Linked DNA regions of Homo sapiens: regions 1, 2 and 3 are each linked to region 4. Evidence: fine-mapped expression QTL. A gene starts in region 4. Each other region holds a variant in brackets. All regions are shown on one strand. Distances are from middle to middle. Region 1 holds the start of EFHD2-AS1 (EFHD2 antisense RNA 1). Region 2 overlaps FHAD1 (forkhead associated phosphopeptide binding domain 1). Region 3 overlaps FHAD1 (forkhead associated phosphopeptide binding domain 1). Region 4 holds the start of FHAD1 (forkhead associated phosphopeptide binding domain 1).

Region 1 (8,000 bases), 170 kb before region 4:
GCTGGACTGAGAGCCCAGCTTGGTGCCTGTTTGGGAAGGCCAATGCCATTCGGCAGTACTGGCAGAAAGCGCCCAGCCTGGGAGCTCAGCACTTTTCTCCAGCACCGGAGGGAGGCTGCGGGGCCTGGCACCGTGCCCGCATTCCTATCTGCCTCCCCTTGAATAGTTCTCGTCAGGGAGGGCTCAGCAGCTAGCTGCACCCTGGATGCTGGGGACAAAATCCCCATCCATCCCCCTCTCGAAAGCGGAGCAGCCAGTTACCCCCCAAGGACGACCCTTTCCCTTTGGGGTGAGCATGGTCCCCAGCTGGTTGCTTCCCTGCCCCTGCCCCTCTCCCCAGTTCTGATAACTAGGGAGTCACAGGGGTAGGCAGTGGAGGCGTCAACCATGCACAGTGCAGATGTCCCAGCCTTGCACCCAGGTGAGCCCCACGTCATAATCTATCATCATTCCTGGCTACTCTGCTGAGCACTTGCTATGTGCCAGGCACGATGCCAGGTGTTTTGCATCAGATTCTCACAAGAAGCCTATGAAGCGGCATGAACATGAACCGACAAGGAGACTGAGGCTCAGAGGGGAAGCGACTTAGCCCAGGTCATAGGTGACAAGGGTGTCGCTGGGCTCTGAACCAGGCCTGATCAAACACATGCACTCTTAACGACTATGCTATGCCCTGATGCCTATCAGGACACAGCAGAGAACTTCGGGGTTGGGAGGGATATTAGAGGCCATCTTATTCAGTCGTTCCTGAAAATCAGATTCCTGATGCAGTTCGTTGTTTAGTGCCTTGAATACCTCTGAGGACAGGAAGCTCATTGCTTACTTAAGGGGGGGCCTATCTTGGCTTTGGAACTATTAGAAAGTTGCGGCCGGGTGCCGTGGCTCCCGCCTGTAATCCCAGCACTTTGGGAGGCCAAGGCGGGCGGATCACAAGGTCAGGAGATTGAGACCATCCTGGCTAACACGGTGAAACCCCGTCTCTACTAAAAATACAAAAAATTAGCCGGGCGTGATGGTGGGCGCCTGTAGTCCCAGCTACTCGGGAGGCTGAGGCAGGAGAATGGCGTGAACCCAGGAGGCGGAGCTTGCAGTGAGCCGAGATCGCGCCACTGCACTCCAGCCTGGGTGACAGAGCGAGACTCCATCTCAAAAAAAAAAAAAAAAAAAAAAAAGTTGCTCCTCGACCAGGTGCAGTGGCTCACGCCTGTAATCTCAGCACTTTGGGAGGCCGAGGCGGGCAGATCACTTGAGGCCAGGAGTTTGAGACCAGCTTGGCCAACATGGTGAAACCCTGTCTCTACTAAGAATACAAAAATTAACTGGGTGTGGTGGTGCATGCCTGTAATCCCAGCTACTAGGGAGGCTGAGGCAGAAGAATTGTTTGAACCCGGGAGGCGGAGGCTGCAGTGAGCCAAGATTGTGCCACTGCACTCCAGCCTGGGTGACAGAGCAAGACTCTGTCTCAAAAAAAAAAAAAAAAAAAAAAAAAAGAAAAAGAAAGAAAGTTGCTCCTCGTGCAGGTGCCCCCAAGCTGCACTGCACAGTCTGATGGCAGAAGGAAGCAGAGTCATTGCAAAAACTGCACACGGGAAGGTGGGAGCACAGGGACCCCAATTCTGTCTCTCCTGACTCCCATCCCAGGCTTTACTGATGGCCGCTCTGGGCGTGCAGGTCCCAGGAGAACAGACAATTGGACAGGGTGGGTGTTGGGTATGGGCTCAGGAGCCCTCAGGCCCCCCTGGCTTCCCCAGTTCCTGCATGTCCCCACCCCCAGACTGCCTGACTCATATAGGGAAAGCCCAGCGCTCACCACTTCCTCTAGTCCTATCTGGGAATCTCACACTTGATCTCTTGCCCTAGTTCAGCTAAGTGGGGTATGGGGTTGGGGGAGAAAGAGAGAGAGAGAGAGACGGAGAGATAGAGAGCACATAAGTGTGGCGCTTGGGGCTCCCCCACGGAGGATAAAGAGGGAGACCCCAAGCAATTTGCTGGGGGGCTGTCAGGGCTCAAAGGCATCCTAACCTGGAGTTCAACAACCTCACACCGCACCCACGGCACTCCCTGCCAGCCACCCCCTTTCGCTTCTTGCTCTTCATAGTCATTATTGTTATGATAGTGATTATAAAGAATATTTATTGAATGCCTAATATTAACATAACCCAGTGTTTATAACGTAACTTAATCTTTACTCCATACATCTTATCCTCTTACAGCTCAGACAAAGTCACCCACCTAAGGATAACCTTAGGTCAACCTCAGGAAGTGGTGGGGAGACGGCTGTGCGGGGGCCTGAGCCGAGGCTTAGCGCTTCTTAAACGTCAGTGTGCACACCTGGTGAAGCTGGTTACAGTGCGGATTATGGGCTGGGCGTGGTGGCTCATGCCTGTAATCCCTGCACTTTGGGAGGATGAGGTGGGAGGGTGGCTTGGGGCCAGGAGTTTGAGACCAGTCTGAGCAACATAATGAGACCCCATCTCTACAAAAATAAAAAAAAATTAGCTGGATGTGGTGGCATGTGCCTGTAGTCCCAGCTACTCAGGAGGCTGAGGTGGGAGGATCACTTAAGCCCAGGAAGTTGAGGCTGCAGTGAGCTATGATCGTACCACTGCACTTGGTCTGAGTGACAGAGCAAGACTCTGTCTCTTAAAAAAAAAAATTGCAGATTACAGTCTGGTAAATCTGGGGTGGAATCTGAGCATCTGCATTTCTAACATACTCCCGGGCGGTGAAGCTGCTGGTGTTTGGGCCACTGTAAGGGTTCAGAGGACTTGGAGCCGGGGAGGCCCAGGTTCAAATCCTATTCTGCCCCTCACTGGCTATGTGACTTTGGACAAGTCACATAACCCTTCTGAAAGTCCAGCCTCCTTAACTGTGAAATGGGCGAGGATAATGTTGCAGGATAAGAAAGGACTGAACGGGAGGCAAAGCATCTGGTTTGAAGTGTCTGTGGCTCAGGACTCCCTGGGCGGCCCGGCTCCCATCTGGCCACACCTTTCTGGCACTGACCCCTGCCTCTCTGTTGTCCTTGAAAAGCAGAAGTCAGCCAAGGAGAAGGTTGCCCGGCAGTCAGGGGAACTCAGCTGCTCCAGGGTGTGGGGACCTTCCCTGCTGAGGCTGCAAAGTGACTCTGCCTCTGCCGGCAGGGCTGGCCTTGAGGAAACGACCTCTGACATCCCCTGAGGCAGCAAGGCCTGCTGTCCTGGAGCCTAGACTCTCACAGTGGAAGCCAGTCCAAGCCACCAGGCCTTGGACCCAGGTAGCATGGAGGAGAGCGAGGAAGCCGGAGAAGGCAGGAAGGGTGGACCAAAGAGGAACCAAAAGTCCTGGGCCGGGGGTGTGGGGAAGGAGAGGTGACTCAGAGGCTGATGCATAGTGGAAGTGGGAGGAACGGAGTAAGGACCGAGGCCAGGAAATCCTTCCTCCCCAGGGGTGCAGGGCATTCTCCCCACCCACTGACCCTAAGCTGCAGGTGAAGGACCCCACCTCTCCACCTCTCTAAGGCTCTCGGAGGCTCCCCCAAGCCCCAGCCACAAACACGGCTTCACTTGGCCTCCAGGGGCTCCTTGCAGGAGGATCTGGTTCTAATCCTGTCACTGCCACTTAATATAATCTTAGACAAGTGACAATCGCCTTGAGCCTCAGTCTTCTCATCTGTCAAATGGGGATAAAAATGATAGTATCAGGCTGGGAGCGGTGGCTCTCGTCTGTAATCCCAGCACTTTGGGAGGCTGAGGCGGGCAGATCACTTGAGGTCAGAAGTTCGAGACCAGCCTGGCCAACATGGTGAAATCCCGTCTCTACTCAAAAATACAAAAATTAGCCAGGCATGGTGGTGTGTGCTTGTAGTCCCAGCTACTTGGGAGGCTGAAGCAGGAGAATCACTTGAACCCAGGAGACGAAGGCTGCAGTGAGCCAAGATCATGCCACTGTACTTCAGCCTTGGTGGCAGAGCGAGACTCCATCTCAAAAAAAAAAAAAAAAGGAAAACAAAGACAGTATCAATCTCATTGTGCTGGTGTGAGAATTCAATTCAGTTCTCTAAATAATATGCATAGGCTCCTCCAGGAATGGCTAGAACTAGTGGCTCTGTTTAACAAGGAGGGGGCACAGAGGCAGGGGGCTGGCTACAAAGAGAACATCAGCATGGTGTCATTCATGAGAGCTTTCGGTAATCATGGCAGAAATAAAGAAAAAAACCTTCCATTGCTAGCCTTGTGGGTGCAATCCTCTCTATCCCCAAACCTCTATACATGTTTGTTCTATATAAGGCTATAAGCCTCTTGAGGGCAGGAACTTGATTCATTTAATTCTCTGGATCTTGTAGCGCAAAAACTTAATATCTGTTGGAAGAATGATCACATACGAGAACCTTGTATTTTTCAAAAACATCATCTATCATGCAAACAGCCCAGACACCATGATGGGCTCGTCACAAAGACTCAGGGTGTTTTTATACCTAATCCTCAGAACTTTACCAGGTAGGTTCTTGAGCCCCAGGGGAAACTGAGGCTCAGAGATGCTGAGTCCCTTGCCTGGAGCAACCCAGCTGGGTGGTGGCAGACGG[G/A]AATCCCCATTGTGCACCCTCCAGAGCTGTTGTTTGCTCTCCCCTTTTTTGTGCCACCTGCCTTCCCTGAAACTAGGTGATAATGAATTCATTTCTCCCTTTTTGTTATTTATCAAAGCCATATGTAGCTGTCAATCAGAGTGGCTGTTCAGCAGGAGAGAAGGAGGGCTCTAACCCTGCGTCCTGTCACTAGGGCCCAAAGCAAAGGGTTGTCGACAACCTGGCAGACCTGGAAGCTCCGCTGGTGGTTAAGTGGAGGCAGCCAGTGGGCACTGTGGAGCTGCCTCTGAGCCAGCCGCAATGACCACTGCCAGGGCCCTATGAGGGGCCCAGGAGAGGGTGTATGCTGAGCTGGGGATGGCGGTGACAGTCATTTAGTAACGACTTGCTCTGTGCCAAGCACTGGGCTAAGCGCCATACAACAACCCTGTAACGTGGGTCCCCCTGTCCCCGCTGTTCCAGCGTGAGGAACAGAAGCTCAGAAGGGCTCCACAGCCCACAGCTGTATTCAAACCCAGGGCTGCAGACTCCAGAGGCCCTGCTGACTGCGTCCAGGAAGGGCTCCTGGGAGAGGTGTGTCCCCTGGAGGTGGAGGTGTGGAGAAGAGGGCGGGAGGCTTCCAGAGCTTGTGCAGGGAAGAGCTGGCCAGAAGGAAAGGAAAGCCTGCCTCTCTGACGTAAGGTGTCCTGAGATGAAGTGGCTGGGGATGACAGTGGGGACAGGGCCTGCAAGGCTGTGCTAGGCGGGAGACAGGGATCTAGGGCATCGTCCTCAGATTCCACGGCAGGTTCAGAATTACACGGCTGCCTACCTTTCCAGCAGGTCTCAACTTACAAAACCCTCCAGAGCCCCCGCTAGGCTGTTGTCAGCCCAGGGGTGGGCACTCCCGAGGCTCTCCAGGGCCATTCTCTTTGCCTCTCTGACAGGAGGGTTCCAGAGCCAGCCCTGGAGGAGCAAAGAGAGGGAGGGAGCAGCTGGGGGATCAGAGATGCTGGACGTAGCCTGAGGCCGCACGGAGACGGGGATGGAGAGTCCTGGCTGCGAGGGCCAGGGAGACGCAGAGCCTCCTTGTGCCTGGCACTGGCCCAGAACTCTAAGTGTGTCATGTCCTCGGAGCCCCACCCTGAGACACCGGGACCACTCTCCTCATCATACAAGGTTTCAGCCTCACTGAGAACCTCTCCGTAACCCCGAGCAAGTCACCGCCACATCTTTCTGGGTCTTGGTTCCCTCTTCTGTCAAATGGGGAGAGGGGTTGGAGTCAACCCTTCAGGTCTCTCTCAGGAGGAACCTGAATGACTCTAGGTGTGAGACCAGTGATGGCTGACAGTCTGTCTATCTTCCCCCATCCCCTCTCTTCCCCCTCGATCTCCAGCCTCAGGAAGTACCTGCTGAATCAACACGGAGGGGTGGACCAGAAGGCCCTGGAAGGCAGTTCCAATATCCAGAAGGGCTCAGGACCCCTCAGACATACGCAGGTCAGGGCTGAAGGACCTTTGGGGGTCATGAGGGATAGCCTGCCCCTTTTACAGGTGGGTAGACTGAGGCCCAGGGAGGACAAGCAGACTAGGATGGAAGCCCAGGTTCCTCGCTCCTGGCCCCCAAGGAAAGGCTGGCTCCCATTCTCCTGCTGACCTCATGGTCTCCTGCCTCCTGCTCTAGTGACTGGCTTCCCAGGAGGGCAGGCTCCCCTCCTCTCTGCCCTCTGCTCTCCCCAGAGCCCTGGCTCTGATGCCCTGGCTTTGATCCTAGGACCCTGCTTGGACCCAGGAGGCTGCAGCCCCACTCGGACAGCGGAAGCAGAACGGGGGTTTGTCTTCCACGAGAGCCCGTCTGTTGGCGGCGGGGTTGGGCTCGGTTGGCACAGTGAAGCGTTGTTTCCTTGAATACACAATCTGCAGCTTTCCACCCTCACCCGGGCCCTGGCAGGCAGCACTTGCTTCCCTAGAGGTCCAGCTTCCTGGCCCCTGCCTGCCCCATCAGCCCTCCTAGAACCCTGGCAAGAAGTGCAGGTGCCAAGGGGTAGCTTGGAGGGGTCCAGCTCCCCTCAGTCGCCCTCAGAGTACCTCTCATCAAACTAGACCAGAAACAGCCTATGTAAAAAAAAGTGAGTTTGCTGCGCAAATGAAGCTTCCAGACTGTTCCCTCAGCTGCATGCCACTTCCAACCACACTGCAGCCTCCCAAGTCCCGCTCATTTGAAGTGTCTGGGTTCTCCCAGAACAGCTCCATCTTTGTTTTGGTGGCCAGTGGCAGGGAAGCTGTGGAAGCCCAGGAGAAGGCAGGCTCTGGGGGAAAGGAGAGACGGGGGCTGGGGTTGGGGACATGAATGGACAATCCGCCACGAACACGGAAGCGGGTGTTGGAGAAGGTTTTCCAACATGAAAGTAGATGTCTGTGATGGGAAACCCGGAAGGGGAAGAGCCCGGGATTTGGAGTCACAGACCTGGGTTTCAGTCCTGGCTCTATCATTTTCTAGCTGTGTGGTCTTGGCGAGTTATTTAACACCCTTTGTCTGCACAAAGGTGACGAAGAGCTCTGTGTCACAGGGCTGTTTGAGGGACCTGGTGAGCGCCTCAGCACTATCAGCACAGGGATCTCCGTGGTGTCTGAATCAGCTCTGCACTGCCCGATGGGGGCAGTGACAGACAGTGATCCATACCCACCCCTGCGTCTGCCCACCCAGGAGCATTCACGTTACTCTTCCAGGAATCCTGGAAATCCTGCTCTCCCAATCTCGCCAGTCTTCTGCTGGGAAGAAACTTTAGAAGAACTCCAACCAAACACCGTGGAGCCAAGGACGTGGGCGCCCTGGGACTTTCTTGAAGAGGTTCTGGGCCCTGGGACTTTCTCAAAGAGGTTCAGAGGGGCCGGGGGTCAAGGACTTGATTTTCCCCCAGAAGGACCTTGGGAAAGTATGGGACTCCTCAGCCACCCGCAACTGGGAACCAGAAATCCTTCCCCCTGCCTTGGGGCCAAATGCAGAAGCTGCTGCAAGCTGTGGTGAGTAGGGTCAGAGCCTTTCTCAAACAGTGCAGTTGCAAAACGCCCCTTCCTGGGCTTCCGGCTTGATGTTGGGGCACTGACAGCTGCATGTGGCTGAGGCTGACACCCCTGGTCTGCCCCCACCTCCTGCCCAGCCAAGCGGGAGCCGGCCTTGCCGCATCCCTCCCTCAGCCCTGGGCTGCCTGTGCCAGGTGGGGCTAGACCTCCTGGCTCACCCCCAAGACTCAGCCTCAGGCCAGTTCTATCCCCTTCCAGAACCACTCCAGACCAGCACCCAGATCGTGGAACGAGGCTGTTCCCTCTCCAGGAGCCAGGGGCAGGGGGACAGGGAACAGGAGGTGGGGAAAGCTACCAAAGGGAGGGGCACTGGCACCTTCCCCATCCCCTGGGCACACACATGGCTGGGAGAGAGTGGCTGTGCATCTTAGACC
Region 2 (8,136 bases), 26 kb before region 4:
AAGAGCTTCCCCTTTAAGGCAGTGAGTAGCCAGGCATATGGGCACTCTTTATGTTGGGCAGGATGTCATGAGGTTGCAAGAGGGTCGAAGGACTGCATCCAGAAGTCATGTGGGAAGCTCTGGCTGGAATGGGAGCAGGGCAGAACAGGCCAACGTAGGTTTCCTTACCTAGCTGCTTTATAAGAACAGCACTAGTGTTCACAGGACAACCCTCACTCACAGCTCCTTTCCTGGAAATCATAAAGCACTAAAGAAACCAACAAGCAAACATCATAATGGCAGAAACAACGCGGCAAGCACATCTGACTTTGTGACTTGGATTTCACACGCCTGACACTTAGGCAGGGAGTCAGTGTTACTACTCAACAGTTGCTTCAGGGCATCGCAAATGGCCCTGTAGGTTATGCCTCGCACAACTCCAGGGGGTGCCATCTTTGTGGACTCTACTGTGAATGGTGACTGGAGTTGTGCAAGGTGGTGGCCCTAGGCTATACTTTTTTTTTTTTTGAGAGAGTCTCACTCTGTTGCCCAGGCTGTGGCATGATCTTCGCTCATTGCAACCTCTGCCTCCCGGGTTCAAGCAATTCTTGTGCCTCAGCCTCCTGACTAGCTGGGACTATAGGTATGTGCCACCACGCCTGGCTAATTTTTTGTGTTTTGGGTAGACATGGGGTTTCACTATGTTGGCCAGGCTGGTCTTGAACTCCTGGCCTCAAGCGATCCTCCTGCCTTGGCCTCCCAAAGTGCTGGGATTACAGGCATGAGTCACCACGCCCGGCCCCTAGGCTATACTTTGGCAAAAAAGCTATGATATATAACGTGTACTCTTAAGCATATCGTGGGTGCCAATGTACTTTGTAAACCAAGAGTTTCTTTCTGTTTTTCTACCTTGTATGTCACTCCATGGGTAAGTTATTTGCAAAGGCATCCACCTGGTAGTTGGGAGGTCTTGGGAGGTTTTCTGTCCATGGGAAGGCTCACAGTGGAGGCAGGTGGCTGCTAGCGTGCTCCTCTTACCTTCCTGCTATCATAGGCACCAGATACTGGGCTAAGCAATTTGCAAACAATGACCCGTTTACTACTACAGTAACCCCACATGAGGAACTATTAGGATTCCAATTTTACAGAAATGGGAACTGAGGCTTTGAGAGGTGAAGCAACTTGTGCATGATCCCACAGCTGGTCAAGAGCAGGGCAGAACTGTGTGGGGCAGACTCACTTGAACTTCAGGACACCCACGCTAGCCACTGTGATGTCTACAAACACATTTGGGTCTCTAACTTCTGCCTCCACCTCCCATTTCCTATTGAAATGGCTGTCACGTCCCTCTCTGTTGGTTATGGTCACCACAAAGCCTGAAATAAATTTTTCTGTTTGGGAACTCTTTCTTGGGAAAAGAACAGCTAAGCCTTACAATATTAGGACAGTCCTCTTCCAAAGGAAACAATCCTTGAAAACTCTACCGCGGGGAAGACACAGCCCCCTCTCTAGGGACTCAAAGAATCAATAAGAGACAAGAGCATGCTGGAATCAAGACAGCTACACATTTCTTAGAAAAACTGGACCCCAAAATGAGATGAGATTTGATGAGAGACGCTCTTCACTACCTCCTTTTTTCTTTTTTATAGCTCACAGGTCGAGGTCATCAGGCAAATAGAAAGGGAAGCCATCAGAAAGAGAAACTCAGTCCACATGGCTGCCCTCACTCAGGCCTGCAAAGGACCCTTTGTCACTAAGAGGAAGCCTGCACGAATGTCTCTTGATCTAGGAATGCTCTGAAAGGGAGCCGAGAGCAGTTTTGTGAGGATGGGGTGGAGGCGGACAGGGGGTCTTCTGAGGAAAACCTGGCAGGGACAGAGGCTCGGCTTGCCCCCTGGAAACGCTCGGGCTGCTGTGAGGTACTCTGGGCATGGGCCAGGGGGCAGATGTCTGGCTGCCAAAAGTCCCTTAGCTAATAAAGCAGGAGGCAACTGCATGTAGAAATAAGAATTTTTAAAATTCATGTACAGCCAAGTGACTGTAAAAGTGTGCTTTGTTGGCCAGGCGCGGTGGCTCACGCCTGTAATCCCAGCACTTTGGGAGGCTGAGACGGGCGGATCACGAGGTCAGGAGATCGAGACCATCCTGGCTAACACGGTGAAACCCCATCTCTACTAAAAATACAAAAAATTAGCCAGGCATGGTGGTGGGCACCTGTAGTCCCAGCTACTCGGGAGGCTGAGGCAGGAGAATGGCGTGAACCCGGGAGGCTGAGCTTGCAGCGAGCCGAGCTCGGGCCACTGTACTCCAGCCTGGGCGACAGAGTGAGACTCCGTCTCAAAAAAAAAAAAGTGTGCTTTGTTGTCTTTGAAAACCAGTTGATGATACTGCTGCACCTAGCAGCTGACCCAATGGTTTTCTCCCAATTGTTACCTGCAAGTGGAGACAGAGTTTAATTCACAGTGACTAGCTGTGTGGTCCTGGGCAAATTACTTAACCTCTCTGAGTTTCAGATTCCTTGTCTGCAAAATGGGGATCATGAGAGAGCCCATGCCCTAGGCTGTTGCATTAAATAAGGGAAAGCAGGTAAATGCCTTAGCACAGTGTCCCTCCTGCTCCTCCTCATTATTCCATTATAATAACTCTACCGTTCTCATTCACTAACAAAATATAAACTATTATACAAAACAGAATCTTTTTTTTTTTTTGAGGCGGAGTCTTGCTCTGTCACCCAGGCTGGAGTGCAGTGGCATGATCTCGGCTCACGGCAACCTCCACCTCCTGGGTCCAAGCAATTCTCCTGCCTCAGCCTCCAGAGTAGCTGGGACTACAGGCGCCCGCCACCATGCCCAGCTAATTTTTTTTTTGTATTTCAGTAGAGACGGGGTTTCACCGTGTTGCCCAGGCTGGTCGCAAACTCCTGAGCTCAGGCAATCTGCCCGGCTCGGCCTCCCAAAGTGCTGGGATTACAGGTGTGAGCCACCATGCCTGGCCAAAACAGAATCTTTTATAATACATTCTTTTGCTCCTTCAGAAGTGAAGGTTGGACATCTTTACCACTGGGTGACACACTTATGTGATTAAAACAAAATACCCCTCCCCAAATTTGTACACTTAGGTTCACAGCTGCATCATTTGCAATAGGCAAAAGGCGGAAGGAGCCCACGTGTCTACCCATGGAAGAACGGATAAGCAAAATGTGGTCTCTCATACAAGGGAGCATTCTTCAGCTTTCAAAAGGAAGGACAGTCTGACGCATGCTACAACATGGATGAACCTTGAGGACTTGGTGCTGAGTGAAACCAGCTAGACACAAAAGGACAAATATCGTATGATTTCGCTTATACAAGGTACCCAGAGTAGTCAGATTCACAGAGACAGGAAGTAGAACGGTGGTCGTTAGAGGCTAGGGTGAGAGGGCAACAGGGAGACAGTGTGCTCTTGTTTAATAGGGGCAGAGTTTCAGTTTTGCAAAATGAAAAGAGTTCTGTGGATCGACGGTGTGACAGCAGCGCCACAATGTGAATGCACTCAACACTGAACTGTTCCTTAGAAACGGTGAATACGGTGAATTTCATGTTATATGTATTTTACCACAGTTTAAAACATAAAAAATTGCACAAACCAACACAAAAAGTCAAGTATCTCACAGGTTTCTTTCTAGGATGTACATGGTGATGGCAATGTTCTGAAAGTGGCTTGTGGTGATGGCTGCACCCCTCTGTAAATATACTGAAATGTGTTGAATTGTACGCTTAAAATGGGCAGGGTTTATGCTGCATAAATTATACTTCTATAAAGCTGTTCAAAGCAAGGAAGCAAAGAAATGCTAAGGTCATGAGGAACCCTGTAGTGTGACGGGTGCACTTAATGTCTTGGTTGTGGCAATGGCTTCACAGGTATATCCATGTTCCCAAACCTAGCAAATGATGTACTTTGGACATGTACAGTTTTACTGTATGTCAACTATACCTCAATAAAGCTGCATTTTAAAAAAAAGCAGCATAGTTATCCACATAAGAATGAACCCCTTATATTTTATTAAACAATGCCCCTTTTGATGGGCATTTAGGTTTCAAATGTTATGCCACTACAAATAATACTTCAATAAATACCTTTGTATGAAAAAAAAGAAATAGAGATATTGTGCATCCTCCTCCTCCCCCACTGGCAAGTCACAAAATTAGAATCTCCCATGGAGGGGCCCCGGGAACCTGTAATTTTACTGAACAGTCCCCCTCAAATTCTGATAATCAGACATGTTTAGGGAAACACTGGCTCGGACTTCACAGATTTGGCTTTTCAGGCGCTTATGTGTTAAGAGCGTCTACTTGGACACTGAGTTTCAGGCTCTACAGACATTCTCTTGATGCCATGTGCCGTCAAGAAGGCAGAGACCTGGGCATATGAAGAAGTCTGGCCCAGGTCACAGAGCTAGGAAGGAGCAGCGTGCTCATCTACCTAAAAATGAAATCCACCTCTGCATTTTCAAAAGCACACCTTGTTTTCCGCCTCCTCTCAGGAAGTTGCACATTTTTGGAAAACTGGTTCTATGTGAGCCAAGATGCAACTCCAAGAAATGCCCAGAAGAGGGTGCTAAGATTCTCTCCTTCCTGGGACCCGCCAGAATGACTCAGAACTCCACAGGGTCCACTCTGTCTCTGCTGCCTGTGTGCAGCGTGCGATCACAGTGGCACCAATGTGGATAAGCGCCACCCTGCAGCTGCATCCGAGCGCCGGGCTGCACGAAGGCGACATGGCCCCTCTATCCCCCAGTGGCCCGGACTCAC[C/T]GGAGGTGGATTTTCAATGACCAGTTCATAGGTCAGCCCTGCAGACCCAAATCTCAGGATGTCTCCAGGGATGAGCTTCACAGCCACGTTTTGAATGTGGCACTCGTTGACAAACGTGCCGTTGCGGGAATTGAAGTCCTGGAGAACAAAGCTGCACTCCGCCTCGTTATATTCAATGAGTGCATGGTGGTTGTCGATGTCAGGAGACTGCAACGGAGAAGGAGGACAGTCGTAGCCATGAAAACAAAAATGACACGGCCCCTAATGTTTTGAGCTGAGTGCCTTACCTGTTTTGCCGCCGCCAGATCATCACGACAATCCTCATTTTAAAAGGAGGAGGCTGAGGATCAGAGAGGTTAAGCGACTTGCCCAAGGCCACACAGCTAGTGTGTGAAGGAGCTTGGGATATGTGCTCTGTCTGACACCAGACCTGGGGACAGGTACCTAAGTTGTTGAGTGGGGAAATCAGGCAACACAAAGGCAAAGGGATCTTGGGAGAGTCATATTGGACAAATATGGGACCAGGGAATTGGCCATTTTCTTTTCTTTTTGTTTTTGTTTTTATTTTTATTTTTTATTTTACCAAAACCGAAAATCGTCAAGGAATTGGCCATTTTCTTTTTCCCTGACTCCACATGGGTATTTATGGTGGTACTCAGTACCAGGACAGGAGGCAAAAATGGCCCAAACAAGAAATAGAGAAAAGTACTAAAGAAGCCATTACCGTTACTTATAATCCCACCCTCACCAGTGGCAGCCATGGTTAACATTGAGGTTCACATCCTTCCACGTTTTTTTTCTATGCTTACGTCCTTTTAAATTTTTTTAAACAAAATTAATCACACCCTACATACATAGTTTTATAACTACCTTTGAAAAACCTTGATGTACAATAAATATTTCCCATGCGATTAGTTATTTCCATTGCTTTTTAAAAGCTATTCAGGATTTGCCTAACCACAGATGGCCCGCTTTTCAAAAGGGGGCTTGGTGTGACCATGTTTCCCCAAAGGAAAGGGGCCCCAGCCAGTGTGTCTGCAAACTGATGGCAAGGGACAGAAGCTCCTCTGTAATTTCACTTTAATAAGAGGACTGAGTGAAGCTCAGCACAAAGGAGGTGACTGCATGTTCCCCTGGTTGCAGGGCCCTGGAGGGATGAAGGGAAATGTTCTGACTGTGAGCTGCAGGGCACACTGAAGTCTTCGTCTTTTATTTTTGAGACAGAGTCTCGCTCCGTCACCCAGGCTGGAGTGTGGTGGCACGATCTCGGCTCACTGCAGCCTCCACCTCCTGGGTTCAAGGAATTCTTCTGCCTCAGCCTCCCGAGTAGCTGGGACTACAGGCATGTGCTACCACGCCCAGCTAATTTTTTTTTTTTTTTTTTTTTTTCCGAGATGGAGTCTCGCTCTGTTGCCCAGGCTGGAGTGCAGTGGTGCGATCTTAGCTCACTGCAAGCTCTGCCTCCCGGGTTCACGCCATTCTCCTGCCTCAGCCTCCCAAGTAGCTGGGACTACAGGCGCCTGCCACCACGCCTGGCTAATTTTCTGTATTTTTAGTAGAGGCGGGGTTTCACCATGTTAGCCAGGATGGTCTCCATCTCCTGACCTCGTGGTCCACCCACCTCGGCCTCCCAAAATGCTGGGATCACAGGCATGAGAGACGGGGTTTCACCATACTGGCTAGGCTGGTCTCAAACTCCTGACCTCATGATCCGCACGCCCCAGCCTCCTAAAGTGCTGGGATTACAGGCGTGAGCCACCGTGCCCGGCCAAAGTCTTCATCTTTTAAGGGCACTGTCAACCAGACATCCATGCCAGCTTGAGACTTTGCAACTATTTTCTAAGTTTATCTTCTCAGGGTGCCCTGTCCAGCTTTTATATAAAAGTACTTGCATGTAGACAACTAAAGTTCCATCATATAACAACCTAGAGCTTATATTAATAATAGAATATATTAATATGTATACTAGAGTAACAATAAAACATATTACTTACACATTACAAGCCAGGAGATTGCTTAGTGCTTTATTGCATTGCCCTATTTCATCTTCACAACAATCTAGAGATAGTTTCCCATTTGGTAGATAGGGAAACTGAGACACAGAATGAATTTACCCAAAGTCACCCCGCTTGACAAGTCACCTGGCTTGTACTCAGGTTCGCCTGATTCAAATGTCTGTGCTATTAGCCACTTTCCAAGTTTCCACCAAACACTTTGCCACCCAAAATATTAAAATAAAAAAGAAAGCTGAAGTAGCTATACTAACTGCGGCCAAGGCAGTTTCAGAACAAGAAAAACTGGGGATAAAGAGAAGCATTAGGCCAGGTGTGGTGGCTCATGCCTGTAATCCCAGCACTTTGGGAGGCCAGGGCGGGCAGATCCCCTGAGGTCAGGAGTTTGAGACCAGCCTGGCCAACATGGTGAAAACCCATCTCTACTAAAAATACAAAAATTAGCTGGGTGTAGTGGTGCACACTTGTAATCCCAGCTACTCAGTAGGCTGTGGAAGGAGAATCACTTGAACCCAGTAGGTGGAGGTTGCAGTGAGCTGAGACCATGCCATTGCACTCCAGCCTGGGTGACATGAGTGAAACTCAAAAAAAAAAAAAAAAAAGAGAGCCATAAATAATGGTAAAGGGGTAATTCTCCAAGAAGACATAACAATGCTTGATGTGCATGCACCTAACAACAGAGTGCCAAAATACACAAGGCAAAAGCTGACAGAACTGCAAAGAAAAACAGATAAGCCCAATATGACAGCTGAAACTTCCACAACCCTCTGTCAGTAATTAGCAGAGCCAGCAGGCAGAAAATTAGTAAAGGCATAGTTAAACTGAACAACACCGTCAATCAACAAGATCTAATTGATATTTATAGAACACTTAACCCAACAACAACAAGGTGCACGTTCTTCTTGGGCTGACATGGAACACTCACTAAGCTATACCACATTCTGAGCCATAAAACACACCTCAATGAATTTAAAGGAATAGAAATCATGTAGAATATGCTCTCAGACCACAATGGAAGTAAACTTGAAATCAGTAACAGAAAGATAGGTGGAAAATCCCAAAACATTTGGAGATTAAACAACACATTTCTAAATAACACACGGTGAAGGAAGAAATCTCAGGAGAAATTAAAAATTATCTTAACTAAATGAAAATGAAAATACCACTTAAAATTTGTGGGAAGCAGTGAAAGCAGTGCTTACAGGGAAATTTATAGCCTTGAATGCACACATAAGAAAAGAAGAAAGATCTGAAATCAATAATCAAAGTTTCTACCTTAGGAGACTAGAGGAAGAAGAGCAGTATAAGCCTAACATAGACAGAAGAACTGAAAGAAATATTAGATCAGAAATGAA
Region 3 (8,136 bases), 120 kb before region 4:
ATTGGCCAGGCTGGTCTTGAACTCCTGACCTTGTGATCCAACTGCCTTGGCCTCCCAAAGTGCTGGGATTATAGGCGTGCGCCACTGCGCCCGGCCGACTCTTTAGCCTCATCTCCTTCCTTTCTCGAGTGGGTCAGGAGGTCAAGAGACACCAGAAATTGTTCAAACCTCTCAAATCCGACATTCTGCTGTGGGCTTCGGTAAGGTCTTTCCTTAACTTCATGATGACTTCCTGCTGAGACAGAATTTCCTTCTGAGCAGCCAATAAGTCATCTCTGAAATTCACAAAAACAGGTGAAGTCAGTTCAACTCAAACTCCATGTTATCTCCTGAGTGTCAGGAGGGGCCAAGTACAAATGCAAAGAGATTCTCAATCACGGTCCATGCAACGCCAGTCCCAGCAAAGGATGAGGACAGTCTTCAAAAACTCTAAAAGAAAAACGACTTTTTTCATGCACCTCATTTAAGAAAATACATTAAGGCCAGGCACCAGGCATGTGCTTGTAATCCCAGCACTTTGGGAGGCCAAGGCTGGAGAATTACTTGAGCTCAGGAGTTCGAGACCAGCCTGGGCTACATAAGTCAGAACCCCGTCTCTACAAAAAAAAAAAAAAAAAAAATTAGCCAGGCATAGTGGTGTGTGGCTGTTGTCCCAGCTACTCGGGAGGCTGAGGTGGGAAGATTGCTTGAGCATAGGAGTTGAAGGCTGCACTCCAGCCTGGGTGGCAGAGCAAGAACCCATCTCTAAGAAAAAAAAAAAGAAAGAAAGAAAAAAGAAAATCCACTGAGATAGAACACAGGATCTGGCTGAGTTGAGTCTGCGGCTCAAACATGCCTTGCATGAGACTGATACCCACTACCCACCATCATGAATGGATGTGCCTGTGGACTTCTGATGGTGGAGGGACATGGGAAGACTATTTTGGGGAGGTTCAGGGATTCTTTGGGGACAGGGAAGAAAAAAGAGAGGAAGACAATGTGGCTTTGTTCTCTCAGCAGCCCCTTTGAATTCCTGGTGGAGAGAGGTGGGGCCAGATGTGAATGAATGGTGTTCTTCTGGGAGCCAGTGGAAGTGTGGCCCAGGCAACAGGGGCCCAGGCAACAGGGGGACAGTGATGGTGATGGGACAACTTCCCCTCCCACACCCCTGGAGGGCAGCACACGTTTGGTGCCCTGAGACTCAGGATGGTTGATGGGAGGGAGGCTGCGCCCAGTGGAGAGGTGAAGGGCGCCCAGCAGGAATGGCAGGGGAGGCGCCTTGGTGGGGATTTGACTGGAAGAACACAGGGTGCATGTCTCAGCAAGTTGAGAAACTGCAGCCTGGCGGAGATAGGTCATGTGTGTGCTGCAGGGAGTGGGTCTTGCCCTTTTGGAAGGGGGTTAGGAGCCTTAGTCTTTGCAGGTATTAATGCCACTTCATTTGAGTTCACAGGCTTTTGAAATCCAGGCTCTTCTTATAAAGACTTTATTTTTTATTTATTTTTATTTTTTTGAGACGGAGTCTTGCTCTGTCGCCCAGGCTGGAGTGCAGTGGCGTGATCTCAGCTCACTGCAAACTCCACCTCCCAGGTTCAAGTGATTCTCCTGCCTCAGCCTCCCAAGTAGCTGGGACTACAGGCATCTGCCACCATGCCTGGCTAATTTTTGCATTTTTAGTAGAGACGGGGTTTCACCATGTTGGCCAGGCTGGTCTCAAACTCCTGACTTCAGGTGATCCACCCGCCTCGGCCTTCCAAAGTGCTGGGATTACAGGTGTGAACCACTGCGCCCCGCCTTATACAGACTTTAGAAGGTACTGTGTTTATTATGAATTAAAGTAAAACACTGGCAGGTTGCATGTCAAACAAACAAACAAAAAGACTGGTGATCATCAGAATGAAAATAACTACATAGATATAGTATATTCTGTGTGTGCATGCATGCGTGTGTGTCCACGTGAGTGTGTTCTTGGCTGCAACCACAAATCTTCCAACTTGAGGATAAAACCTTAGAATTCAAGCATGTTCACACGCCAAGGAAGTGGACCAGAGCAGAGCTGGGTGGTGCTGAGTCTTCTCCAAGTCATGGGCACCACCGTTTCTAGATTTTAAACAGGAGGAGGAGTCAGGAACTTTTCACAATGCGGAGGCTGAGTATCCTTGTCTTTTTGGGGTAAAAACCCTGTGACATTAGACTTCGGTCACTAGGATTTGGTGCAAGGGTCAGGCAGGTGGTTCTCCTCTTGGGGGAGCTTCTGAATCCCTCCACTGCATCCCATCGGCGCCTCCTTCTTTACGTGCTGCTTTCTGGATCTTTCCCATTCATACGTTTGTTTCTCTGAAAACTGTCAGTTCTTTGAGGATAGACTTCTTTGTAGACTCACTGGCTTTCAGGGTCAGGAGAGTTGAAATCATTTATTTAAGGTCACTTAGCCGACCCCTTAACTTCTCACCCTTTACAGGGCCCCGCCCCACCAAGTGGTCTCCACTGTTTGAAATCTCTGTCTGCTTAATAACACCTGTGAGTGGGCTTGCCTCTAGCTGATCCTCGGGAAAACTAGCTAATAACAGTATTAGCTAGATTTCCCAAGCACTAGGCATGTACAGCCTTACTTCACAAATGTGGAAGCTAAGGCTCAGTGAGGTGGCGTGACTTGCCCAGGGTCACACAGCTGGAGTGTTGAGTTGGGATCTGCTATGTTTGAATGTTCATCCCCTCCAAATCTCAAGTTGAAACTTAACCCCCAATGTGGCAGTATTGAGAGGTGGGGCCTTTATAAAGCGATTGGGTCACGAAGGTACAATTATGGATTAATAGATTTGTGGACTACTGAGTTAGTGGATTAATGGGTTATCATGGCAGTGAGACTGTGGATTTATAAAAAGAGGCAGGGAGACCTGAGTTAGCACGCTCAGCCCCTGGATGTGATGCCCTGCACCACTCCCAGACTCTGCAGAGCCCCAACAGCAAGAAGGCCCTCACCAGATGCAACCCCTCAACCTGGGACTTCTCAGTCTCCATAACTGTAAGAAATGAATCTCTTTTCTTTATAAATTACCCAGTTTTGGGTATTCTGCTATAAATAGCAGAAAACAGTCTGAGGATCTGAATGTAGGTCTACCTAAATCTTTCCACGACACTGCCCTGCCTTGCTGAAGGAATGGGGAAGTGGAAGCAGCACTGGGAAGGCAGCAGGCCTGGCTCCTTGTTTGGCTTCTGACAATGTGGTCTGGGCTGAAGGAATGGGGAAATGGAAGCAGCACTGGGAAGGCAGCAGGCCCGGCTCCTTGTTTGGCTTCTGACAATGTGGCCCAGGTAGGGGCTGGTTGCCTGTTTGCCCCCACCCAGGTGGTGCCGGTGAGAATGCCTGGCGCTCACACACCCACGGGTACTCACATCAGATGTTCGTACGCCATGTCTTTGGCACTGCTCTCTGTCATGGGAGCCACCAGAGGGTCTTGCGGCCTTTCCTCCTTTGGGGCTGTATCAGAGGGACATGTGATCATTGTGAGAGGAAACTGTCCTTCCCCTTTGCTTACAAGCACACCTGTGTCTTTCACAACTTACAAACCCTGCCTCCACCTGCAGCCCTCTCCACCTTGTGAGACCTGCACGTGTGCCATGTCACAGGCTGGGGGCTCTCCCCAAGTGTGTGGCCATGCAATCTTCCCAGCTACTCTAGAAGGCAGGGGCCATCAAATCCACTTACAGACAGGGAAAGGGGCACCGGAGTGATGGAAGCTGCCGGCGACCCACTTGGCTAAGCTGGTGAGCAGTGCAGTCTCAGCCCCTGGTCCCACCGCCTGCCTGTCTCTCTTGGAAGAAGAATCTGTGTTTAGCGCCTTCCTCTCCTCACCTCCCATTTACACCTCAGTGCACCGCCTCTAGCGTCCTGTCTCACTACTCAGTCACATGTTCACTCACTTGTTTATCCTCACGTGTTCACTCACTTGTTTATCCCTTCAACTAACATTTGTGGAGTGCATACTGGTCTAAGTACGGGGGTGACAAAGATGCAGTCACCCTTCAGGTCCC[A/C]GCTCAATCTCAAACACCCTCCCTCTGACCTGGACGTCACCCTTCAGGTCCCAGCTCAATCTCTCTCTTTCTTTTTTTTTTTTTTGAGACAGAGTCTCGCTTTGTTGCTAGGCTGGAGTGCAATGGCGCGATCTCGGCTCACTGCAAGCTCCGCCTCCCGGGTTCAAGCGATTCTCCTGTCTCAGCCTCCCGAGTAGCTGGACTACAGGCGCGCGCCACCAGGCCCGGCTAATTTTTGTATTTTTAGTAGAGACGGGGTTTCACCATGTTGGCCAGGATGGTCTCGATCTCTTGGCCTAGTGATCCGCCGGCCTCGGCCTCCGGAAGTGCTGGGATTACAGGCGTGAGCCACTGACCTGGCCCCCAGCTCAATCTCAGACACCCTCCCTCTGACCTGGACTCTGGATTGGGAAACTGAACTCCACTCTTTGTCCTTGTCATGGTGCCCTATTCATCCTGGATCACCTGTCAGGGCAATAATTTTGTTACTACGGGGACAAAATCTGGTTTGTCCATCATTGGATCCTGAGTGCCTACATGAGATTGGAACATAACAGAAGCTCCACCGAGAGAGCTGAGTGAGTGAATGAATGAGGTAAGTCCTGATGGCTTGCCAGCTTGCTGGGGACTACAGCCATGTTTCTTAAGCAGGAGTGAATTTGCCTCTAGGGGACATTGGGCAATGTCTGGAGATATTTTTGGTTGTCCCAACTGGGGTAGGGGTGCCACTGGCAACTGATGGATGGAGGACAGGGAGGCTGCTAACACCTGATAGTGCCCAGGACAGTCCCATCCATGAAAAAATGATCCTGCTCCAAATGTCAACAGGGCTGAGGCTGGGATACCCTGGCCTGAGTCCTCTACTTCCAGAACTTTCTTCAAGAGCTTACAATAATACAGCTTACCTTGGCCATTTGGGGCAAATAAGTGCTCACAAGTCTGAGTTCTTTTTTCAGCCTCTTTAGGGTTAATTTTTTAAGGGATAAATCCTGGCTGGTAATGAGTGCATTAGTGAAGATGCAAAAGGCCGATGGCAGAGAGAAACCTTTGAAAGGCCCCTGCATGAGATGTTTTCATGTGGAAAAGATGATTCCACTTCGCGCTGCCCTCGCTGGCCCTGACAGCCCCGGTAGCCTGTGTGTCTCGCCGGCTCACTGAGTAGGCACAAAGGATGTCCCAACTCATTGCCATGACTTCTGCTGAACCTGGGCCTCGGAGGGCTTCTGACATCGTTGTGTAACAAGAACAAAAGGGGGCCTCAGAGAATGAATGAGCTTTCGAATGAGGCACGGCCTTTTTCTTAGCCATCAGCCTGTTGGGACCCAGCGGACAATCAGAACCTGCCCCGAACACTAAGATTTCCTTGGCCTCCCTTCGGACTTACCTGGGTCATTGTCCTTCAATGTTGCAATCTCGCCTTCTATTTTTTTATGGTGCTGAGTGACTTTCTGGAGTTTCTCTTCGAGGCTCACAATTGTCTGGGCGTGCTGTTTGATTTGCTCCTTATATTCCATGATCTCTTCTTCAAACCCGTGTCTCTGTGATTCCTGCTCATCCTGGAGGGCCTTTACCATCTTCTGCTGCAGGATTAGCCGCTCTTCCACCATGATCTGGGAAACAGAGAGTCACTCAGTGAGGTCTTGGGAGCTGTGTATGACGGCAACAATAATATGCCCCCTGGGCACACACATAGGTGCTAAACTGGGCCCCACCCCAGGGCCTTAGCACATGCAGTTCCCTCTGCCCTGTGCACTTCTTCCCCAGCTCCTTGCATGGCCAACTCCTTCTTGACTCTCAGGGCTCAGCTCCAGCATCACGTCCTCTGAGAGGCCCTCCCTGACTACCTATCAGGAGTAGCCCCAGACACTTTCTGTTCCAGCGTCTGTTTCATTGTCCCTGAAGCCTTTAATTTTGTTTCTTTGTTTCTCTTCCCCGCTAGAAATGTAAACTTTTTGTTGTTGTTGTTGTTTGTTTTGAGACAGAGTCTTGCTCTGTCACCCACATTAGAGTGCAGTGGCACTATCTTGGCTCACTGCAACCTCTGCCTCCTGGGTTCAAGCGATTCTCCTGCCTCAGCCTCCTGAGTAGCTGGAACTACAGGTGTGCGCCAACACACTCAGCTAATTTTTTTTTTTCTTGAGACGGAGTCTCTCTCTGTCACCCAGGCTGGAGTGCAGTGGCGCGATCTCGGCTCACTGCAAGCTCCGCCTCCCGGGTTCACACTATTCTCCTGCCTCAGCCTCCTGAGTAGCTGGGACTACAGGCGCCCGCCACCACGCCTGGCTATTTTCTTGCATTTTTAGTAGAGATAGGGTTTCATCATGTTAGCCAGGATGGTCTCGATCTCTTGACCTCATGATCCGCCCGCCTCGGCCTCCCATTAATTTTTGTATTTTTTTTTTAGTGGAGATGGGGTTTTGCCATGTTGGCCAGGCTGGTCTCAAACTCTTGACCTCAGATGATCCACCCACCTTGGCCTCCCAAAGTGCTGAGATTACAGGTGTGAGCCACTGTGCTCAGCCAGAATTTGCATTTCTTAAAAACAAAAAATTACTAATGACCCCCGAATGGCAAATCTGCTGCTTTCCCATGCCTACAACCTCCTAAGGCTCCCCTTGGCGTTTCCATCCCAGCACCTCCTCCTCACTGCCCGCCTTCTGCTCCCACCTCACCCTGTCCTGCTCCCTATTCCCAGGTGACGTGCTGGGCCTTGGCCTCTGATCTACCCATGACAGATACATTCTTTGCCCGAGACACTCACACATGCCTGCTCTTCCAAGGACCCTACCTAAGAGGCTGCCTTCCAGATTAGGCTCTTGTCTTGCTTTCTCTCCCAAAACTATTGTGCACCCAAATCTCGGGAGCTTTTGGACTTTGATGCCCTATCCTCGCCTTACTCCTCTTGTCTCCTCTTCTCCAAAAGAGGGTCGCTCCAAGAGAACCCCCCACCATGACCCCAGACCTCCATACTCCCATCCTTATGTCGTCCCTATGCCATCAGGTCCCCAGGCGCCCTGGCCTGAAGTGTGCAGTCTCCTTCGGCACTGTCCTCTCCTTGGTGCTCACGTCCTGCCAGCAGTTATCAAGTCCTGCCATCGTAACTCTCTCCAGAGACTCCCTTCCCCCCACGCCTCCCCCAGCTCCCGCCAAGGTCAGCTCCTTATGATTCTGGTCTACACCACGTTCCACACCCAGAGCTGTTCTCTCCAACGCCACACCCTCGTGAAATTTACTCTGTGCTCTTCTGGGAGATTCACCTTCATGAATTCCTTGCCCAGAAACCTGTCGGTTGAACGTGTGGATGACAGAGGGAATGCACATCGAGCCCTAATTGTGGAGGGCCTCGAATGCCGAGCCTACACTTTAATGCATTGTCTTAAAGCCTGTGGAATCGTCACTCATCACTCAATCCTGAGGCTCTCCAGGCGTTCTGATCCTGTGAGGACCCTGCATTACAACATCTCAGAACACCGTGCAGAGAGGGCATCCTAGCTCTGTGTACATTTCGTTCTAAACCAACGCTTCTCATTAGGGGTCCATTAAGGGACACTTGGCAATGTCTGAAGACATTTTTGGTGATCACGACTGTGGGGAGAGGGCTCCTGGCATCTGGTGGGTAGAGAACAGAGGTGGTGCTAAATATCCTAAGATGCTCAGGACAGCCCCTGACAGGAAAGAGCTACTTGGCCCAGAACATCAGCAGTGCTGAGGCTGAGAAGCCCCGGTCTAAACCACACATTCTCGTGGCACTGTAATCTTCCATTGAGAGAAAAATTCTCCCGTTCCCGGAAGGCACCGACTTACCATTTTTGTCTTGGTAGTTTCCAGTTCGGCTAATGTTTCATTTAATTTCAAGGCGAGGCTCTCTGCTTTTAGACTTTCAGTTGCCTTTGTTTTCTGAGTCTCTTCAACCATGGCCAGTGCGTCACTTAATTTATTATTTAAAACGTCCTCTTTTTGCTCTTTTAATTCTAATTCCTAGACAAAAAAACAAGTAGCAAAATAACAGACATTCAGGAATACATATTTACCCAGCCCCCTTATCCCCCACCTTCAAGGACAGGGTAAAGTCTATTCTCTAATTATTCTGTCGATTCTTTTAAAGCACAAAGTCCATGCCTT
Region 4 (8,136 bases):
AAACTTCTATAGAGCTTATTTTATTCATTCATTCATATTTAGAGATGAGGTCTTGCTCTTTGCCCAGGCTGAGTTCAGTGGCACAATCATAGCTCGCTGCAGTCTTGAACTCTTGGGCTCAACTGATCCTCCTGCCTCAGCCTCCAGAGTAGCTAGGAATACAGGCACACCACCATGTCTGCTTTTGGAGTTTCTTAAAGAGTTATCATTGGAGAGGCAGGCATTAGATGATGTTTTTCTTTTTAAATCGCTGTATTTCTTCATTTATTTAGTTAGGGGAAAAAAGATTACTTCTAAAGGCAAAATATCAAGATTATAGCTCAGCCATGTAATCAGGACCCTGCACAGTATTCCCCCCAGCATTTTACTATAAAAATGTCAAACATACAGAGAGGCTGAAAGAAGCAGATAATGAGCTCCTATGTACCCACCACTAGATTCTACCATCGGCATTTTGCCATATTTGCTTTATCACAGATCTTTCCATCTATCCGTGTGTCCATCCATTTTATATTGTGGTGCATTTCGAAATAAGTTCTATACACATCTTTTAAGACAAACACTTCAGTGACTTCAGAAAGTTCTAAAATATTGACAGTAATTCATCTCGATGCTTGAATCCGATTTGAGATTACGTCTAAAGATGCAGTGTGATATCCTCCACCTCAATTCCTTGTCAAAGAACAACAACAGTCTCTCTCTTTTCCATTCAATTGAAAAGTCAGTGAAATGACAAATTATTGGACTATGGGTAAAAACAAAAATCAACTAGTTGTGGTGGTACGGACTCTCGGGGCTGGCTCTGCTTTTCATCATCATCTCTATCATCATTTATGGAGTCCTTAGTAAGTGCCAGGCACTTTTCCTTGAATATACTCTTTTCATCCTCAGAGAAACCCTGCAAGGTGGGTGTCATTATTGTCCCTACTTTACAGAAAAGGAGACTGAGATGCAGAGAGGTTAAGGTCCCCTAGCATTCGGGCAGGGAGATTGCCATTGCATGTCACCACTACATAATCCTCAGGCAGCTCAACTTTTCACACCTCCATCACTGCTGGGTGGGGAGGGGATGGGATGGGGGAGCAGAGAGAGTGACTGAGTGGGGGGAGGGAGAGGTTGTCACTTGGGATAGTGGGGTTGTCACTGTTTTGTTGACACTTAGGACATGAAATAACAGATAGCCCTTAACACCAGAATTCTATCCTCTGCAAAAAAAGAAAAGACCCTTGGGAGTAAGAGAAATAAAAACAAGCCAGATAGTTTATGTTTGTAAATTCCGAAGCCTATGAGAAATCCTCAGAAATATTAATACTTTCATATAATGAGAATTTTATTTTTAAGTCTGCTGTCTTTAATAGGGATAAAAAGACACTTCTTTTTCCAAAAGAACCATGCCCTGTTGCCCTCAAATTGCCTGAGTTATTAATCTTCAATTGCAGAGGACTACATCATCAAGCACCACATCCAAACTAAAGTAAAAGTAATCTAAAGTCAACTTTCGAGAAATGTCTCTTTTGTGGGAAAGCCACAGGAAATGCCTCCAGAGTAAAACCCCAAATCTGAATGACTGGCTTTTTTTTTTTTTTTAGCTCTTCCCCCCGATGTTTCCACAGCTGGTGCCTTGCGGTAGCTACCTGACCACCCCAGCTAAAGGCGTCACCAGTCACTTTGTTGTCTAGCTAGCATGTGTCACTGCTGTGGCTCCTTCCTTGAGCTTATCATTCTCTGTCATTTTCTTGTTCTTTACTTAGCTGTTTACTGTTTCCCTTTCACTGAGATACGTTCCAAGAGAGCCCAAACTGTGTTGTTTTTGTTAAACTCAATTCTCCATGGGTTTCCTGTGTTTGTACCCATCTTCAGAGCAAAGACACTGACAGATTTTGTTCCAGACAATCTTCCAAGGACATCTGTAGGGCAAATATCCTGAGAGGATAGGGATAGTGTCCCTATCCAGGGCAGAGTGCAGATTTATGATAAAAATGTCATCTCTGGCTGGGCACGGTGGCTCATGCCTGTAATCCTAGCACTTTGGGAGGCCCAGGTGGACGGATCACCTGAGGTCAGGAGTTTGAGACCAGCCTGGCCAACATGGCGAAACCCTGTCTCTACTAAAAACACAAAAAAATTAGCCGGGCATGGTGGCTTGCACCTGTAGTCCCAGCTAATCGGAAGTCTGAGGCAGGAGAATCACTTGAAACCGTGCAGCAGAGGTTGCAGTGAGCTGAGATTGTGCCACTGCACTCTATCTAGCTTGGGAGACAGAGCAAGACTCTGTCTCAATTAAAAAAAAAAAAAAAAGGTCATCTCCTTCCAGGGCAAAGGTTGGGCACTGGCTAGCAGCCCCTTTTAAAAGACTGGAGTTTCCTGAGCTTGGGGTTCCTTAGCTGGGAAACAGACTCGCAGTGTGCACAGCATCCACCTGAGCTGTCCTGCATCACCCCGGGGTACTTGCAGGGCAAGGGGAACCAACGCAAACATGAGCTCACAGTGCCTGCTGTGCTGTGAGTAATAACATCCTTTGTCTCTGGTCCTGGAGTCTCTGGTCTTCTGCTAGCATCATTAAGCAGTGGCAGGCTAACTTAGCTTGCAAGTAGTGTAAAAATCTCAGACCCTTTGCATTTCCTCACAGTCTGTTCATTACTCCCCTCTGGCCCCCAGCGCTGCCATGCCTGACACATAGTGGTGCTCAGTAAATCATGAATGAATGAAAGTACAAAACAATGCTTAAAAGTAAGTCAGGGTAGCCTAAGAACCTCTGACAGTAACTACCTTTCATTTTCCCCTTCAGTATTTATCCTAGATGACATTCTGGAAAAAAAAAAAAAAGTCTATTTCTTTAGCTGAATGGGTTGGGCCCTATTTCCCCACTTTAATCTTGCCCTGTGCAGTCACTTTCCTACCTGAAAACACTGTAGAAAGTGATTAGATGCGTTAAACTCTGTAAATTAGTTCTAAGACACAGGGCACCGACCATGCAAAAGAGCAAAAGAGCTTCAGGCATCTGCACTCCCTGCTTATAGGTCACAAGTGAGATAGAGAAGCAAAATTTCTGTTGAGGGGTTACCAGATCTTAAGTGGCCTGGGAGCCCTAGAAATTCCTCAGTGTTGTATTTGGGAAGGGAGAGGTTAGGCAAGGGGGGAGTCTCTCTGACCGCCGGGTGGGTGTCGTTCGTAAGTCAGGGGCAGCAGGGATGCCCCTCCTAATCCCAGCTGTAACCCCCAGGACTTCCCAGAGTGGCATGGCTGGTGCCAAGGAGGGTCTAAGGCTCCCGGGGGCTTCCTCCGCGGGCGGGGTGGGGCCTGCATCTGGAAAGGAGGGGCTGGTGTTGGGGTAGCTACTGGGGTGCTCCTGGGGACCGGAGCCTGGATCCAGGAGGATGGGGCCGGGGAGCCACCCCTCCTCCTGCCAGGGCTAGTCCTCGCTGGGCCGCCCCTTCCGGTCCCCGGTCTCGGCCCGCCACCCCTTCCCGCGCCGCACTCACCTGGCGGGAGGAGGAAGCCCACGCTCCGACCTCCGCCGAGAGCCCTGCCAGCTCGGGAGGCGTCGGGCCAGCTCCGGGGCGAAGCCTCCCGGCCGCGCTCCCGCGGAGTCTCCAGCTCGCACCCGGCACCCCGCCCGCCCGGCCGGCCTGTGTACGCGCGTTGCCATGGCAACGCCGCCAGGCGCCGCGGGGTCCAGCCTAATAGATGAGGGCGTGGCCTGCGCGGCAGAGGGGGCGTGGCACCGTGCAGGGAACGCCCACTGGGTTACCGCCTGCTGAATGCTCCAGGCCCCACGAGCCTGCCCCATTTCACAGATAGGAAAGCGGAGGCTCAGAGGTCACAGAAATGGCCCAAGGTTTTACAGCGAGGAAGGAGCAGGGAGGAGATTTGATTCAAGAATCCTTTCCATTACCCCTCACTGTAAGCTGGATGCGTTGAGGGAGGGTCGGGGGCGATAGGGAGAGGTAGGAGATTGATGGAGCTGAACTCATGAGACCCTTGGAGGTTAGTATGCCCCCTGCCCTACCCAAATCTCTAGTCCTTTCCGTTACAGGCCAGAAAATAGAAAGAGTAAGAAGAGGGGATCTCTGGGAGTGGGGTGGGGATTGGGAAAGGGATGGGGTGGAATGAAAAATTTTGAAAGAATGAGGATTTCTTCCATGTGCTGGGGAAAAAATATTTCCAAACTCACAATCCTGCTGCCTCTGCTCCTCCCTGTTAAGAGTGACATTTATTCATTCTTTTGCCCTTTCTCTATCTCTGCAAACATCTTTTGAGTCCTATGAGTGTCACACGCTGATCCCAGAATACACCTGGAACAGTTACTGTCCTTAAGAAACCGCTTGTCAGCCGGCACAGGACTCGCGGGATGGAGTGTGTTGAGCAGATGTGCAAATCCTATCTCCCGCCACTATCTCCAGCAGGAAATCCTATCTCCTGCTGACTCTACCTGGAGAGTGATTCCTTTCACTGGCAGGAAATGGCTGACCAGACACCTCAAGAAAAACTCTAAACGTTTTTCTAAGAGAGATGAACTATGGCACATTCTACCCTAGTGATACGGTTTGGCTGTGTGTCCCCACCCAAATTTCATCTCGAATTGCACTCCCCACGTGTTGGAAGAGGGGCCTGGTGGGAGGTGATTGAATCATGGGGGCAGACTTCCCGCTTGCTTTTCTCATGATAGCGAGTGAGTTCTCATGAGATCTGATGGTTTAAAAGTGTGGCACTTCCCCCTTTGCTCTCTCTCTCTCCTGCTACACCATGTTACAACATGCTAGCTTCCTTGCTTCCCCTTGGCCTTCCGCCATAACTGTAAGTTTCCTGAGGCCTCCCTAGCAGTGCAGAACTGTGAGTCAATTAAACTTCTTTTCTTTGTAAATTATTCAGTCTCAAGGAATTACTTTATAGCAGTGTGAGAACAGACTAATACACCTAGTCAATAGGAAGAGGATCTGAGAGAGAAATCATGGACATCGATTTGTGGTGGAATATACAGTGAAGATGCTCAAACGTGCCTGGAGGCTTTTAGAAATGCGGACTTCTGGGCACAGACCCCAGAGATTCTGATTTAGCAGGCCTGGGACATAATCCAGGAATGTGCATTTGCAACAAGCTTGACAAAACCCTGATTTATGCAGCTGAACTGCAGAGACCTCTCCCGGAGCCTGTCCCTACAAATCTCTTCCAGGCCCTCAGTCTGGAAGGTTCTGCCTGGATCAGTTTCCTACAACCAGAAAGATTCTAGGCGTAAAATGTTAGGAGGGACCACAAGGGCTGGGACCCAAGTGATGGCTTCACAGGAACAGAGAGGGTCAAGCTCAGCTTCCCACACGTTTCTGCCTCAGAGCCTTTGCTCTTGCCCATTCCTCTGCCTGGAATGCACTTCCCCTCAAGAGTCTCCTTTGCCTTCTTTACTTTAGCTTTTTACTCACATATCATCTTTTCTAAAATTGGTTTTTTGAAACAATGAAACAACCACCATGAAATCTAATAAACAACAAAAAAGAGCAAATAAAAACAATAAGAACAGCAAAAGCAAATAAAAATAAGAACAACAAAAGCAAATAAAAATAAGAACAACAAAAGCACATCCAAACAAAATAAAAACCTCAACACTCTATCCCTCTTCCCTTCTTTTTGCCACTTGCTATAGTTAGAATATTTGACCCCTCCAAATCTCATGTTGAAATTTGCTCCTCAGTGTTGGAGGTGGGGCCTGGCGGGAGGTGCTTGGATCATGCGGGCGAATCCCTCATGGATGGCTTGGTGCTGTTCCTGTAGGGTGCATGAGTTCTCACTCTATCAGTTTCCTAAAGAGCTGATTGTTAGAAAGAGCCTGGCACCTCCCCCTCGCTCACTCTCACTTCCTCTCTCATCATGTGATCTCTGCACATGCAGGCGCTACTTTCTGCCAGGAGTGGAAGCAGCCTGAGACCCTCACCAGAGGCAGATGCTGGCACCATGCTTCTTGTACAACCTGCAGAACTGTGAGCCAAATAAACCTCTTTTCTGGATAAATGACACAGCCTCAGGTATTACTTGATAGCAACACAAATGGACTAATACATCACTTATCATCAACTCACATACTATTTCTTTATTTATTTATGTTATTTATTGTGTCTCCCTCCCTGACCCCTGGTAGAATCTAAACTCCATGAAAGCAGGAATTTCTTTTTTCATGTTTTGTTTGCTGCTGTGCCACCAGTCCCTAGAACAATGTCTGAATGAATAAATATGCAGGGGGAAGCCCCTGCCACCCTTCTGAAGCCCGGCCTCCTGTCCTCTGAGGACTGCTGGGCTGACCTGTCCTCGCCCCAGGATGTCGGCTTCTCTAGTCCCCTGCCCAGGCCTGAACACCACCTCCATCCCTACCACCACCCCTCCATGCTTGTCTTTGGTCAAACTCTTGTCATTAACATGAACCCAGGACACAAACTTGCTATCAGACAGACCCCAGTGAAACCCAGGCTGGCCATGAGCTGGAACAGCCCATGCCCCTCACCAGGCTTTGAGAGATCATCTGTTGCTGTTAGCTGATATCTCAATGAAAAACAAAAAATCCTAAACTGAGAGCAAAGCTGACACTCAGAATCAGTGGAGCCGAAGTTGCCAAATCTTAATTGGATCCTCTGTCCCTCAGGATGCCACTGTTATCTCAAGGGTGTGCAAAGTTCTTGAAACCCAATTCCGTATCATCCATTTTCATTTCAAAAACAGAAAATCAAATACCCAATAACTTAGGGTTTTATGATATAATTTCCTGGGCTGAGTAAGAGAGTTGTACATTGCAATTAAACAGTGATGCGGCATTAAAAATACTGTCCCTGAAAAAAAAAAATAGATGTTTCTAGATTACTTGTGCTTCTTGGCAGTGCCTACAGTTAACCTTTTATTGAACTCTTGGTGACGACGAAGCCCATATTGTAGGAAATAAGGCTCAGAGACAGGGAGAAATCTGCCTAAAGTCACACAGCTAGAAAATCTGGCAGGATTTGAATCGAGATGAATGTGACAAGGAAGGTATTTCCCCTGGGGAACTACAGGTGACAGCTGTCACAATCACAAGATGCCACTTACTCACAACTGCTTTCTCTCACTTCTGAGCAGCCTGCACTCTTGTCTGTCCAAAGGTTCAGGCAGTGCCCAGGGCAGGGAGTGAAGGGGGCATAAGCCCAGAGGAGGCAGCTTAGGCCTGCCACCCACATTACCTGCTGACATTGGGCACTAGGCTTCGTTCCTGCAGAACTTCTGCCCCCGTAAAATCTCATTCCTTCCCAGCCACCTTCTCTGGGCTGTTCTTGCCTGGGGAGAGCCTAACCCTGTGCTCCATCCTCAGAGAACTGTGTGATGTTTCTCCTGCTGCCCTTGCATTCCAACATGAAATGAATGCTGGCTTCAGGCCCCAGCCGCGGCCAGGAGAGGTGTGGAGGCTTCCTCAGCCTCTATGGCATGAAAGAGAGCCAGAGAAAGAGCAAGAACAAGAGAGTAAAGAGTGCAGGAAATAGCCAAGCTGTTGCGCAGGGTGACGGATGACAGAGAGCAGAGGGCCCACTAGAGACTCCACGGCCCATTAGTAACCTGACCATATAAGCTTAGAAAGTACAGATTTTTATATACAGACCTACACACAGAGACTCATGAAAATAATTTCAAACCATGGAGAGAATAACTGGCAACTGAGGCTTTCTGCAGCCATCCTTGCCTTTTCCCGTGGCAGAAAATGAGAAAATATGGAGCTTCGTCTCATGTCGACTCTTTCATGCTGGTTTGGAGCATTCAGTTATCTTGCAAATCATTTTTCAAAGTCAGTTCCCCTTGGTTCCTTGCGCTTTGCTGTGGGGGGGTCTGTCTGTACCATCCGTTCAAAAACTGCAAAGTGTGCTGGCCCCACCTGTCCTGGGCCTGGTTTTTGTTGTATTTTGTTTGTGCCTCACTTCCCTCACCTGTAAAATGGGTATACAACAATCCATTTTATTGAAAGGATTAAATGGGTTAAGACGTATGAAACAATGGATCAGTGGCTGGTACAACTGAATGGCTCTATGAGTGTTTACGATTATTGCCTGTTTTCTTTTTCTCTGATGCTGTGCGAAGAGAGCCCCAATCTCAACCCAGGTCACAAACACTCTGGAGAAACTTTGATTTGCA

Evidence for each region. PIP is the estimated chance that this variant, and not a neighbour inherited with it, causes the effect.
Region 1: its variant is the best candidate, but not a certain one, in a credible set for the expression of FHAD1 in nasal epithelium (TOPMed, PIP 0.58).
Region 2: its variant is the best candidate, but not a certain one, in a credible set for the expression of FHAD1 in transverse colon (GTEx, PIP 0.65).
Region 3: its variant is the best candidate, but not a certain one, in a credible set for the expression of FHAD1 in testis (GTEx, PIP 0.82).

What each region holds. Positions count from the first base shown.
Region 1 is chr1:15,411,472-15,419,471 of GRCh38, reverse strand. The region is part of intron 1 of EFHD2 (EF-hand domain family member D2); the gene reads right to left. EFHD2-AS1 (EFHD2 antisense RNA 1) reads left to right here and starts at 7,104. Exons shown (of 4, transcript NR_183705.1): 1 at 7,104-7,566. RefSeq lists silencers at 1,158-1,277, 2,165-2,459, 7,673-7,722 and enhancers at 2,828-2,917, 2,666-3,165. The variant G/A (reference allele first, on the strand shown) is at 4,565.
Region 2 is chr1:15,269,163-15,277,298 of GRCh38, reverse strand. FHAD1 (forkhead associated phosphopeptide binding domain 1) reads right to left here. Exons shown (of 34, transcript NM_001391957.1): 3 at 4,770-4,976. Among named protein-coding and RNA genes, the nearest start is that of FHAD1, 26 kb to the right of the region's middle. The variant C/T (reference allele first, on the strand shown) is at 4,770.
Region 3 is chr1:15,357,966-15,366,101 of GRCh38, reverse strand. It overlaps FHAD1 (forkhead associated phosphopeptide binding domain 1), which reads right to left. Exons shown (of 34, transcript NM_001391957.1): 21 at 7,819-7,992; 22 at 5,399-5,624; 23 at 3,376-3,460; 24 at 169-275. Among named protein-coding and RNA genes, the nearest start is that of FHAD1-AS1, 18 kb to the right of the region's middle. RefSeq lists enhancers at 689-1,189, 3,845-3,914. The variant A/C (reference allele first, on the strand shown) is at 4,015.
Region 4 is chr1:15,242,742-15,250,877 of GRCh38, reverse strand. FHAD1 (forkhead associated phosphopeptide binding domain 1) reads right to left here and starts at 3,655. Exons shown (of 34, transcript NM_001391957.1): 1 at 3,483-3,655. RefSeq lists silencers at 3,390-3,629, 3,647-3,820.